Homo sapiens: one gene and its partners. The protein of the gene in region 4 purifies or fractionates together with the protein of the main gene of each other region. This does not show direct contact. Each region holds a gene or a part of one and is shown on either strand. Other genes may lie near its edges.

The links.
Region 1: the proteins of URB1 (region 4) and DHX8 purify together in Homo sapiens (co-immunoprecipitation; one large-scale study listed by IntAct). This does not show direct contact.
Region 2: the proteins of URB1 (region 4) and LRRTM3 purify together in Homo sapiens (co-immunoprecipitation; one large-scale study listed by IntAct). This does not show direct contact.
Region 3: the proteins of URB1 (region 4) and RIC3 purify together in Homo sapiens (co-immunoprecipitation; one large-scale study listed by IntAct). This does not show direct contact.

The regions. Positions count from the first base shown.
Region 1 is NC_000017.11:43,518,457-43,522,029, reverse strand, and holds part of DHX8 (ATP-dependent RNA helicase DHX8), read right to left. Parts: intron 1,901-3,573; coding exon 1,763-1,900; intron 1,280-1,762; coding exon 1,151-1,279; intron 662-1,150; coding exon 465-661; intron 1-464.
Region 2 is NC_000010.11:67,099,509-67,102,089, reverse strand, and holds the end of LRRTM3 (leucine-rich repeat transmembrane neuronal protein 3 precursor), read right to left. Parts: 3' UTR 539-2,581; downstream 1-538. UniProt on the Homo sapiens protein: Exhibits a limited synaptogenic activity in vitro, restricted to excitatory presynaptic differentiation. May play a role in the development and maintenance of the vertebrate nervous system.
Region 3 is NC_000011.10:8,109,970-8,113,542, reverse strand, and holds part of RIC3 (protein RIC-3 isoform a precursor), read left to right. Parts: intron 1-2,405; coding exon 2,406-2,845; 3' UTR 2,846-3,573. UniProt on the Homo sapiens protein: Molecular chaperone which facilitates proper subunit assembly and surface trafficking of alpha-7 (CHRNA7) and alpha-8 (CHRNA8) nicotinic acetylcholine receptors.
Region 4 is NC_000021.9:32,382,969-32,386,541, forward strand, and holds part of URB1 (nucleolar pre-ribosomal-associated protein 1), read right to left. Parts: intron 2,717-3,573; coding exon 2,577-2,716; intron 1,497-2,576; coding exon 1,345-1,496; intron 587-1,344; coding exon 454-586; intron 1-453.

The DNA of each region.
Region 1 (3,573 bases), on a different chromosome or scaffold from region 4:
AAGATATGAGCCCACTCAGCTTTCACAGGTCTATTTTCACAATGACAGTGCCCAACACATCCATCTTGGGGTGCCCAGAGTAGTCACCAGGACCTTCCTTCCAGCCCTAAGTGTACTACAGAGGCAGCTCTACACAGTGGGCAGACGGAGGCACTCAGAGACAGACACTTTGTTTAGACAGGTATTCAATTCCACAGTAATAATGTTCCAGAGGGTTGCAAACAAAGAGCATTTTTTTCAACAACTAACAGATAATCTTCCTCTTAGGTATCTGAGGTAATTCTCAGGCATACCCTTACTTGGGGAGAAGGAATATAACAAAGATGGAAAAGCTGGAGGAAAAGGGTTATGTGAGGAGCAAGAGAAAAGGTGCCTATAGCTTTATAGGTACACACAGAGATGAAAAGACATGATACTCAAGGTGGTTCAACTCAAACATGCAGAGTCATCAGATTCCAGCTTACCTGTCCATTATGCCTAACATCTGCTTGCGAATGTCCTGGGCCCGGCGCAGGGAACGAGCCTGGATAAAGTTCTCATAGCACCATGGGTTGGAGAACTTGTTGTTCTTCCAGGAGTTGTACACAGCTAGCAGGGTGAGGTGGTCCCCTTCAGTCTGGTGGAATTTGGCCTTCTTCTGATCTGCAAGGGCTTGTTTATCCTGCCAAGCAGTGGGACAGAGGAACATTTCCGACTCAACAGCTACTAACTGAACATGGAGCAATTCTAGGGAGCCCTACAAGACCCTATCAAAAGTGTCCACATCAGGCTAGGCATGATGGCTCAGGCCTGTAATCCCAGCATTTTGGGAAACTGAGGCAAGAGGATCACTTGAGGCCAGGAGTTTGAGACCAGCCTGGCCAACATGGTGCAACCCTGTCTCTACTAAAAATACAAAAATTAGCAGCACACGGTGGCGCACGCCTGTAATCCCAGCTGCTCTGGAGGCTGAGGCAGGAGAACTGCTTGAACCCGGGAGGTAGAGATTGCAAGATCATTCCACTGCACTCCAGCCTGGGCAACAGAGTGAGACTCCATCTCAAAAAAAAAAAAAAAAAAAAAAAAGTCCACATCAAGCATTGGAATGGCAACAGGCCAACTACCCCAACTTCATGGCACCCCCATCTAAACTTGGATCTGAACTTCCTACCTTGGGCCTATAGAAGACGTTCTGCACAGACAGCATGGATACAATGGTCAGCATTTCCTCACTGCAGCCCAGATGCACAGACATGATGAGCATTTTGCATAGCATTGGCTCCAGAGGGAACTCTGCCATCTAGAGGGACAAAAAAAGACTACAACTGCTTCCCTGTGGAAGACACATTTGGATTCACCAGAGCAAGACCTTGGTCAGAGTGGGTAACAACACAGATTTTCCCAAAGCATAATGATGCCTTGGGATGCCTTTCTCTATCAGAAGAATGCTGTTGTTTATTCTTTTCCCAAATAAACTCCAACGGGATGTATGTGACCAAGCATATAACTACTGTTGGGGTAGATGAGAATTTTGCAGATGCCGTTTCTAATTAAGGCTACATTCAGTAATACATCCTCAGGCAAAATTATGAACAGAACACCTTTTTGTATAAAGAAGAAACAGTTTAAAGTGACAGTGGAGAAATTCAGGTTAAAAACAAACATTTAGAATTTTACTCAAAGCTTATCCACGGCCTCAGCCTGATTTTGTACAGACCGAAGGATGTGAAAGGCTGACCAGGGAATCTTCCCAAAAGCACAGGAAGTTGAGTCTGTCCCTTACCCGGCGGCCCAAGCGAGTGAGCAGGCCCTCGTCATCCAGGGCCCCCAGTGTGTACAGCTGCTCCATGGCTGTGATCAAAGTTTCCATAGGTGGGGCATCCATGAAATCAAAGGACAGCAGATCATTGATACCCATGGCCTAGAACAGAAAGGAAGAAGGCATGTGATAAGAGGGTCAGTCTAGCCAGTGTCAGCATGTGGGGAAGCTACTTGTTACTTTATTTCCCATTTCTTCAATTGCAATTAGGAAGCCACCGGTGAGACTGGCGGTAACTTCCAGGGCTGGGCCACATAAAACTCAGACTATTATAATAGAAAGCACATACTTGAGACAGAGTCTCACTCTGTCACCCAGGCTGGAGTGCAGTGGCCCAATCTCAGCTCACTGCAACCTCCACCTCCTACGTTCAAGCGATTCTTCTGCCTCAGCATCCCAAGTAGCTGGGATTATAGGCACCCGCCATCATGCCCAGCTAATTTTTGTATTTTCAGTAGAGATGGCGTTTTACCATGTTGGCTGGGCTGGTCTTGAACTCCTGACCTCAAGTGATCCGCCTGCCTCGGCCTCCCAAAGGAAAGCACATAATTTCTCAGGAAACTTTTTGAAAATATTCTCTCAGTTGGGCATGGTGGCTCACACCTGTAATCTCAGCAGTTTGGGAGGCCAAGGAGGGAGAATCGCTTGAGTCCGGGAGTTGAGACCAGCCTAGGCAACATGATAAAACGTCTTCCAAGAAAAAAAAAAACAAAAAACCCTAACACTCTCTCAAAATGACAATATGTACAACTCAACAGCAAAAGGACAAACAACTCAATTTAAAAAATAGGCACAGAGCTTGAATAGACATTTCTTCAAAGAAGATATACAAATGGCCAACAAGCACATAAAAAGATGCACAGATGCACAACATCAGTAGTAATTAGGGAAATGCAAATCAAAACTACAATGAAATATCACTTCATACCCACTAGGATGGCTATAATTTTTTTAAAAAACAGAAACTAACAAATGTCAGTGAGGACGGGAGGTATCAGAAACCTCATGCATTGCTGGTGGGAATGTAAGATGTTGCAGCCACTGTAGAAAAGTTTGGTGGTTCCTTAATAGGCTAAATACAGAATTAGCACATGACCCAGCAATTACACTTCTAGGTATATATCCAAAAGAACTGAAAGCAGACTCAAACAGATACCTGCACACTAATGTTCACAGCAGCATTATTGATAATAGCCAAAAGGTAGAAACAATCCAAATGTCCATCTGCTGATGAATGGATAAACAAAATGTGGTATATACATACAACAGAATACTATTCACCCTTAGAAAGGAATGAAATAAATGGATAAACCTTGAAAATAACATGAATAAATCTTGAAAACATTATTCTAAGAGAAACAGGTCAGATACAAAAGAATATTGTATGATTCCACTTAAATGAGGCTATCTAGAATAGACAAATTCAGAGAGGTAAAAAGTAGAAGAGTAGTTACCAAGGGATAGAGGAAGGGGGAAAGGGGAGTTACTGTTTAATGGGTACAGAGTTTCTGTTTGGGACAATGAAAAAGTTCTGGAAATGGATGTTGGTGATGGTTGTACAACATCTTGAATGTATTTAATGCCACTGAATTGTATACTTTAAAAAGCTTACAATAGTAAATGTTGTTATGTATTTTACAATAATAATAATAATAATATAGTCTACCAACTTGTCCTGTCTCTTGCATACATCATTTCTACTATATATCTATGAGGGATCTCATACCATGTTAGGTGGGAGGGATATAAAGATGGCCAGGATATGGCCCCTGCTT
Region 2 (2,581 bases), on a different chromosome or scaffold from region 4:
AGATTGTTATATTACCCAGCATTATAAACTGTTAAGAGCTGTGCCAATATAAGATGTTATTATATCTATTCTGGAAAATTTTCACCTTTTCTCCTGAGGCCAAATACCTGCCAGTCCCATAACTTCTTCTTTCGCATGCTCTGACATACCCAGAACATCTGCATTTCTTTTATACAGTTGAATAACAACAATTCACATCAGGTATTGGTTTTCATGAATTCAATTTCTTATTTTGAGTGTTTAGTTTGAGAGATGATATCTGTCTTCTAGTCAGGAACAATCAAAAACAAATATATTTTTACTCTCATATACAATAGTTTTATTTTAGAAAATTTTTTTTTCAAAAAGATTTTACTATTTCTAAGCAGTCAATGGAGTCAGAGAGATCTGAGTTCAAAATAGGATTATGTGATTAGTCTTGAGTGTTAAATTTGGGAATGTTTTCTTTCCTTGTAAAAATGTAATTTGTATTAATCTGTATAGTTTTGTGGTTTTCCAAAACATTCAGGAGGGACTAGAAATAGAGACTTGACAAAAATGAGTTGATCAGTAAAATATATTATTTGCAAGTTAGCATATGTTTTAGGTTCTATACATCAATTTGGATAAATTATATTTTATTTTTCTTATAAGAAAATGGAGAAAATTGTTCTCTATTATTACAAGTAAAAAAAATTTCATGGTTTAAGAAGAAATCTTGCCAAAAGAAAAAAAGAAAAAGAATTTTATGTAAGTCTTCCCAATTAGCTCCGAATTGAACATGTGTTCAGTTGACAAAGTGTTGAACATGTGTTCAACCCTGTACTATGGATCTCTTTTATAATTATGCAGTCTCAATTTAGAAGGTCTTTGGTTTTTTCCTTGGGGTTTCTTTCCTTGTGCTTCCTTGATTTTATGTCTGTACCTCGGGGCCTACATGCATCCACATCTTGGGAGCATCTGTTCTGCACATTCACAAACGAACTTGTATGTTAAGAAATATGTGACTTGTTAAACTTTTTGAACAGAGTTTTAATGTGAGAGCCCAGAGTAGAACACAGAAATAATTCAGTTAGCTAATATTTTACAGATGGAGAATTGAATTAAAATAGGGATTACTAAACAACATGTCAAATATATATAGATATATATTCTTTCATTCTATCCATTATCTCTGGAAGTTCTCTTGCTCTGATCAGAGAAAGAAATCTTTTAGTACAGTGGAAAGACTAACAGCCTGTAAATTTTGAGAATAATTCAACTGCACCAATTATTGGCCCTGTGTTTTGGGGTAAGAGCTCAATTTCTTTGAGATTAATGTGTCTTCATAGGGTTGTTATGAAGACAAAATGAGATAATTTATGTAAAATGTGGTTTGTGAACTTCAAAACACTGCATAACTTTATGGTTTGCTGCAGCTGCTGGCTGTTATTGTAACCATGCTGGGTGAAACTTTCCATTTTTCAGCTCCAAACATAAGTAAACATTTCAGTTGTTTAAATCGGTGAGGAATAGACAGGAAGGGAGACATAGGAATGGGGGTTAGAAGGAGGAAATGGGAGATTATCAAATGCTGGAAAAGATAGGTTAGAAATGCAAGTTTTAGACAAAAACTGAAATAAATTGGAAATATGTGATAAAGATTCCAGACACAGTCTTTCAGATTGTCACCACCCTCACCCTTAACCTGGACATGGCAAAATAAAAATTAAGCAAAAATAATAATAATCATCATCCAGCATTTTTTTTCTTGCTAAAGACCCTTTTGGTTGAATTTAAAGATGAGAAGTCTCAAAATTCCTGGCGTATTTGGTGTAGCTTAGGGCCTTGGTTGCACAGAGCTGTGGTTCCAAGGTGATTGCTTCTATTTATAGTCGTTCACTTTAGATGAATTTAAAATATTTAAGAAAGAAAGTGGTTTCCTTCAGGAAATCAAGGGCATACACTTGTAAGACTCCTTGGAACCTTAACATTTCTAAAAATCATTATCAATTTGAATGTGTCTAGAAATAGGTTTATTAGTAGATAAACCTATTTATTAACAAATATGTTAATTTGTGCTTGTTTACACAAATTAATTCTTCTTTTTCTATCTTTGCAAGGATAACTTCTAATGAGAAAACTTGCAAATGACATTTTGGTTTACATAATAAATAAAATTTTGCATTTGATTTTAGACTCACGAATCATAGCTTTATAACCCTTTATAAATTTGCTAACGACGTAAAGCCAAATTTCAATGTAGAGAATTAAGAATAAGAATAATACATTGCAAGGAAATTAGAAAATGGAAAACATAAAGATTAAAATTAGATTTAAAATGACAAAAATTTTTGAAGAGCAAATAATTTATGCAAAATATGTTACAAAATCTGGGATGCTAAATAGTTGACACAAGTACTGTGTTTGACATTTAGTTTCATTTGAATTAGTAATAGAATTTGCTTCTTCCAACATTTACATCTTTTTTCTTTCTGACTTTATATATTTTCAACAAAAATTTGCTCCACAGTTTTTAAGTTCATTCTTCTTGAATCCGCTTTTACATTTGCTGTGACAAACCTGCATAAAACTAGATTTTATAGATATAACTTCTTTGGAA
Region 3 (3,573 bases), on a different chromosome or scaffold from region 4:
CCAATTTGGCACTGGGCTATGTGGGCAGACCTGGCTCTGGTTTTGTCTGGAACCTAGGGTGGGACTGGATTCTGGGGCCATAGTTGCTGGCCTGATGCTGGGTGGGCCCGGAGTCTGTATCTGCAGGGGCCAGCATGGAGGCTGGGTCTGTGGGTGCAGGCATTATGACTAGGGATGCAGAGCTGGACTGAGGCCTGGTGTTGGGGTAGGCTGAGAGCCTGAGTCTGGGTGACCTTCCCTCTTAAAGCAGATAGTCATGAAAATTCAAAGATAAGCTTTGTTCTAAGTGTGGGAAGACAGGGACATGCCAGCAAATGGACTTCTTTTAAGCATTCAGTGGCTGGGAGCTGACTAGCAAGCAGCTTCTCCAGATCCTATCCTTGACCATGGTGGCTGAGGGTCTTGGGTTAGCTAAGCTCCACTTTACCTAGCATTCCATCCGCAGTAAGTTAAGCCTTGGAATAAAGACTGCATTGGCAAAATTCTTAACATACTACTGTGAGTGCTGGTGAGGGTGTCATAAGATGGACAGTCTTTATATCACTGGTAGGATTGAAAATTTATACCACTCTTCTGGAAAGTAATTTGGCACAGTATAAAAAAGGCTTTTATAATGTCCATTCCCTTTGGTCTAGTTTTCATATTTATAGAAGTCTATCTTAAAGAACTAGGGAAGTGGACATAGATTTATATTAAGAAATCTTAACTTGTATACTACTTATAATAGGGGAAAATTGGAAAGAATCTAAATGCCCTAGAAAAGAGGACTAGTAAATCATGTCAGTTATGTAGCTATATGATGAGATATTTTGCAACCAACTTTCAAATGCCTAATGACATGGAGAGATGCTCATGATATAATGTTGAATTGAAAAACATCAGGATATAACCTTTTATACACAAATATGATCCTTCTTTTTAAAAAAGGGGAATAAGAAAATACATGTTGGCCGGGCGCGGTGGCTCATGCCTGTAATCCCAACAATTTGGAAGACCGAGGTGGGTGGATCACCTGAGGTCAGGAGTTTGAGACCAGCCTGGCCAACATAGTGAAACCCCGTCTCTGCTAAAAATACAAAAAATTAGCTAGGTGTGGTGGCATGCACCTGTAATCCCAGCTACTCAGGAGGCTGAGGCAGGAGAATCACTTGAATCGGGGAGGCAGAGGTTGCAGTGAACCGAGATTGCACCACTGCACTCCAGCCTGGGCAGGCGACAGAGCGAGACTCCGTCTCAAAAAAAAAAAAAGAAAAGAAAAGAAAAGAAAAGAAAATATATGTGTATATACGGTTAAAAAAAGACCAGAAAAAAGCAAATTATTATGAGTGAAGATATTATGGGTGATTTGTGTTTTCTTTTTTAAACTAGCCTGTATTTTTTTCAAATTTTCTACAAATGAGTCTGTATGATTTTTATAGTCAGAAAAAGCAGTAAATGTAGAAATGTCTCCACACACACCCTACATTGCACCAAAAAAGACTTATTTGTCACAGTTGTAGGCAAAAAATGGTTTACGTTAGGGTTGAATTTGCCAATTATCATAATGGGCAAATGGGTTCTGAATCCTCCAGCTTTCTGCACTGTATCGTGATTACGGCCGCTGGTGCCAGTACTGGTGTGTGAGCTCCAGCACGGCCCATCTGCTGCTCAGGCTTGCTTGGCGGACACAGATTTATTTCATTTAGTTTGGTAATTTGGCAACAGTTTCTCTTTTCTCATTATCCTAGCTGGGATTCAGTACCAGTGTTACTCATTTTGTTTGCCAGTTTGTTGTTTTCTTTTGTTCCATTTTGTGAAGATGAAGAAGCCAACAACAGGAATTCTGTCTTCCGAAAATGCAGTGCTTGTCCTTTCGGGATCTTGGGCATGCCTTGCTAAAGTGCTCTCTATTTTTGACACTTGCAAGCCATTTCAATTGTTTGGATAAATAGAAAGCTTCATGGTGTATTTTTCAAAGAGCTTAGCATTCCTTTCCTCTCCCCACTCCACCAAGGAAGATTTGGAAATTGTTCCAAATAGAAATTATAAACATTAGCCTGGAGCTGTGCTGTCTCTGTCTGGTTTTGATGCTTTTTTTGTTTTAACTAAAGGCTCATGTTGTTTGTTTAATCTTCATCAGTACTGCAAAAACACATGGTATAAGACTTAACTCTGCCCCAAGCACCCTACACATAAGAAGGGATTTTCATCTGAATTAGTTTGTATTTCAAAGAGCACTGGGATAGCCAGATTGCTAAGAATTTGCTCAAGTAAAACTTTAGAACTATTGGAATCTTAGAGATGTCTTGAATGGATTTGTTAGGATAGGATGGCTGCTGCCTGAGAATCCTCTTTGAACCTGACACTATTTTTTTTTTTTTTGAGGAGACATTCTTTGTAATACTTTGTGCTACTTTTCTCTCTAGGTTACCCTGAAGAGACTTACCCAATTTATGACCTTTCAGACTGTATCAAGCGTAGGCAAGAAACAATCTTGGTGGATTACCCTGACCCAAAAGAACTTTCTGCTGAAGAAATAGCTGAAAGAATGGGAATGATAGAAGAGGAAGAATCAGATCATTTGGGTTGGGAAAGTCTGCCCACTGACCCCAGAGCCCAGGAAGATAATTCTGTTACCTCGTGTGATCCAAAGCCAGAAACATGTTCCTGCTGTTTTCATGAAGACGAGGATCCTGCTGTCTTGGCAGAGAATGCTGGATTCAGTGCAGATAGCTACCCTGAGCAAGAGGAAACCACCAAAGAAGAGTGGTCCCAAGACTTTAAAGATGAAGGGTTGGGCATCAGCACCGATAAAGCATATACAGGCAGCATGCTGAGGAAGCGTAACCCCCAGGGTTTAGAGTGAAAACAGCCAGTCTGAAGTATCCATTACTCAAGTCCCAAGGTGACCTCTCTCTCCTCAGATTTCCTTCTTGGCCCTGTGCCCTGCACTTTCTTCACTGTGTTCAAGTGTCATAGCTATCAGGCCACTATCATGGATATCATGTATCCTTCCTGGTGCTCACACACCTGTCACCTTGTAAAACACGGACATTAGTGTGAACACAGGACAGCTTCGCTCTTTCTCTTCCTGCCTTTCCTCTATCAGAGAAGTTGATCCATTAAGTAATTATGTTTGGTCTATTGTAATTACAGATGGGACCACTCAGGGGCAAAGGTCTGACTCTTCCTGGTAGGTGTAACAGATAGTTCACCTGTGAACGAACATCAGCTTACAGATGATGAGGACTTAAGGTTGCAAGAATGAAGATTTCAGACTCCAAGATCCCTTATTCTTTGGGCCTTGAGCAGGTTAGTAGTCCCCTGGTGAGAAGAGAACATTTTGTTTGTGGGGCTAATGGGCCCAGAGGAGGGTAAGACTCTGCTGTCTAAGCTGAAGCCTCTTCCTCGCAGCGAGGGTCTTCCTAGGAACATTGATGCTGCCTCAGACATCCTCTTTTCTCCAGAGTAGGGAAGACTCCCACTGATCTGAGAATGAGCCCAGAGGCTTGTTTGGGGACTGTTTTACTCTGATACTACCTGGATATCTAGCTTCCTTTACCCCTGTTCTGCTTAACAGAACTGCCAAGCCCA
Region 4 (3,573 bases):
CTTATTAAAAAGCCATAAAAGTCCTCTCTGAGGACGTCACTGGCTTAGAGCTTCAAGGGCTTTCTCCGAGGTGGGCAGAACAGGAACAGAGGACTGGCACACACTACAAGCTTCAGGGCCATGGGCACATGGAGGGTATTTCATTTACCAGGAGAGGAGATGCCCACAGCTAAGTCATCCTCACAACCAGGAAGGCCCTGTGCCACTCAGCCCCCAGGAGCCTCCTCAGATATCCCCATTGTTCAGGCTCTGCCAGGTTCTGGCCCTATCGCCAGCCTGAAGCGAGTCCTGTCCTCACAGACAGATCCTGTGGCTGCTGACACACACCTTTCTACATAGACACCTCTCATTTCATCTGTGTGGGGATCAGGGGCAGAGAATGGAGGAAAAACCACTACAGTCCTCCAAGGGAAGGAGACCCATGGAAGGCACGAGACACTGTGGTCCCCTCACCTTTGAATCCCTCTTGGTCACCAGGGTGTACAGGGTCTTTTTATTCAAATCAAAATGGCTGCAGACGTCCCTGGCAGCTTCCGGACCCTGGGTCACCATGGCGGTCATCAGGCTCAGGCAGGCGCGAGCCAACCTGCACAGGGAACCAGAGGAAATCGGACACGTCAACAACAGCAGAAGCACAGAGCCGCCTCACCACAAAGCCAGCTGCAAGCTGCTTGTGTTATTTGCTATCCCCAAACCAGAAAAAAAGAAGGAAAAAGACATGCTCTTTTTTTAAGGAAAAAGAAAAAAAAAAGCATAAAGATTCAAAATAACGCTAAAAATTAAAACTAAGTAGGATTAACAATATAAACACAAGATTTGAAGAAGATGGACATTTCTCTCTGGAGTGAGCCACTGTGTGATCAATAGACCACACCTCAGTCCCTGTGACTGCAGAATACAGAGGACGACTTCTTCACAAAGGCATCTCTGAATGCGAGCTCTTGGCTGTCTTTCCGTTCTGCGGTTATCCAGATTCCATGGTTTTCTGAGCACCTGCTACATGCAAGGCCCTGTTCTAGGTGCTGGGAAGGTGGCATTTTATAACACAGGCAAGGCCCTGCCACATGCACCTATAGGATTCCAGTAGAGGGAGTCACTCAACAGATAATAGCAGCAAGGACAGTAGCAGGCAGGACAAGAGGGACAAGGGGTAAGTAAGAGAGGAGTCAGGGACAGCCAGGGCTGGTCCACAAAGGAAGGGGGCAGAGACTCGGTCACTGTGGCCTCGGAAATAGCTCAGCTCTCCTCTAGCCATAAAGGTACTGACCAAATGCACCTGCGGAGAGCTGAATGCAGACCAAACCCAAAGGCCCATCCTTTGTCACACCAAGGCAGACTGCCTACCTGTAACCTGAGGCATACAGGGACTCACAGATGAGCTTCATGTGGTTGTTCATCAGCTTTTTCACAATGTTGGTTCCCACAACATGGAAATGTGAAAGATCACTTGCTGTCCGCAATAATATGGCCTCGAAAACTTGAAATATTAACATCGTCTGCAAAGACAGAATTGAAACGCTTAGAAATCGTCTCATTTCCTTTCCTCCTGTACATATATGCTCCTTTTGTCTTAGCCATAGTTACTTGTAGGCTTAAAGCCTTCAACATGCAGGATGACGCCCACCCAGATCCTGAGTCAAACGCGACAGCTTGGCAGGCTGATCTGCAGGACCCATGCCCTGCATGTAGCCCCACTCCCATAGTCCAGCAAAATAAAGAACAGCTTGTTAGGGCCAGGCGTGGTGGCTCACGCCTGTAATCCCAGCACTTTGGGAGGCTGAGGTGGGCAGATCACGAGGTCAGGAGATTGAAACCATCCTAGCTAACACGGTGAAACCCCGTCTCTACTAAAAATACAAAAAATTAGCCAGGCGTGGTGGCGGGCGCCTGTAGTCCCAGCTACTTGGGAGGCTGAGGCAGGAGAATGGCATGAACCCAGGATGCGGAGCTTGCAGTGAGCCGAGACTGCGCCACTGCACTCCAGCCTGGGCAACAGAGTGAGACTCCGTCTCAAAAATGAAAGAAAAGAAAAGAAAAGAAAAGAAAGAAAGAAAGAAAGAAAGAAAGAACAGCTTGTTTACAATCACAGAAAATCAAATGAGAAGAAAATTCTCTTAATGACTGGGTCTCATTCCTTTAGAGATATTCAGATCTACATCCTTATAGCAATAACCCTGAGATTTCAACAGGCGCATCAATATCCCAATGTTCAATCTCTTTGGAATCAGAAAACAATCATCAATTCATTATGTGTTGTGAGTCTGTGACACCACATGTTTATGTGTTTCCCTTTTGTTTAAATAAACCATACCGAAACCAAGTATATTTTGATTAGGAATCTATGATCCTTCCTTCTGATGTCATTCATCAAATGTTAATAATAAGTGAGAATTTTCCACTAAAATGCTTTCAAGGTCATGGAGGCAAAAAATGAATACATTCCTACAGCACAGGGACAAAGCATCATTTTCTATAGAAAGTTGGTAATGGAAATTTCTATCACATTTTTCCTCATCAAACTTAACAGCAGCATTAACTTTTCTTCTCTTCATCAAGCCATGTAAGGAACAACTTACTTCACTTTCAGGTCGTTTCTCTCCACTTAGGAGCTGGAAAATTTCGACACACTCAACAGAAATCTTTATATACCCTTCCACAACATCATACACATCTTCTCGTGGTAGCTTCTTGGCAGCAGACACAAACGCTTCCAAGCCTGAAAAAAAAGTTATGTTCAAACATTAACAAGGTCAGTCTTCTTAGAAACAATCACAGCCACCACTGCAACCTGCTTTCCCTATTCTGTGACCTTCCCCGATCCACCTACACTGCACAGAAGCTACTATGAATGCTATCAACTTAACTGTTTCTCTCCAAAATTCATGTTGAAACCCTAAACCCGGCCGGGCGCGGTGGCTCACGCCTGTAATCCCAGCACTTTGGGAGGCTAAGGCAGGCAGATCACCTGAGGTCAGGAGTTCAAGACCAGCCTGGCCAACATGGTGAAACCCCCTCTCTACTAAAAATACAAAAATTAGCCAGGTGTGGTGGCACATATCTGTAGTCCCAGCTACTTGGGAGGCTGAGGCAGAATTGTGTGAACTCAGGAGGCAGAGGTTACAGTGAGCCGAGATCGCGCCATTGCACCCCAGCCTAGGTGACAGAGCAAGACTCTGTCTCAGGAAAAAAAAAAAAAAAGAAAGAAAGAAACCCTAAGCCCTAAAAAGACAGTATTTGGAGATATAGTCTTTTAGGAGATAACTCAGGTTAAGTGAGTTCATGAGGGTGAGGTCCTGATCTAACAGGACTGGTGTCCTTAGAGGAGAAGGAGACATCAGAGAGCTCCCTCTCTGCATGTGGATAGAGGAAAGGCCATGTGAGGACACAGCAAGAGGGCAGTTGTCTGCAAGCCAGGACGTGCCCTTACCAGGATGTGACTATGCCAATGCCTTGATCGCGGACGTGGCCTTCAGAACTGTGAGGAAATAAATTCCTCTTGTTTAAGCCACCCAGTCTATGGTATTTTGTTATGGCTGCCCTAGTAGATTAATCCACAAGGACATTATGAACACA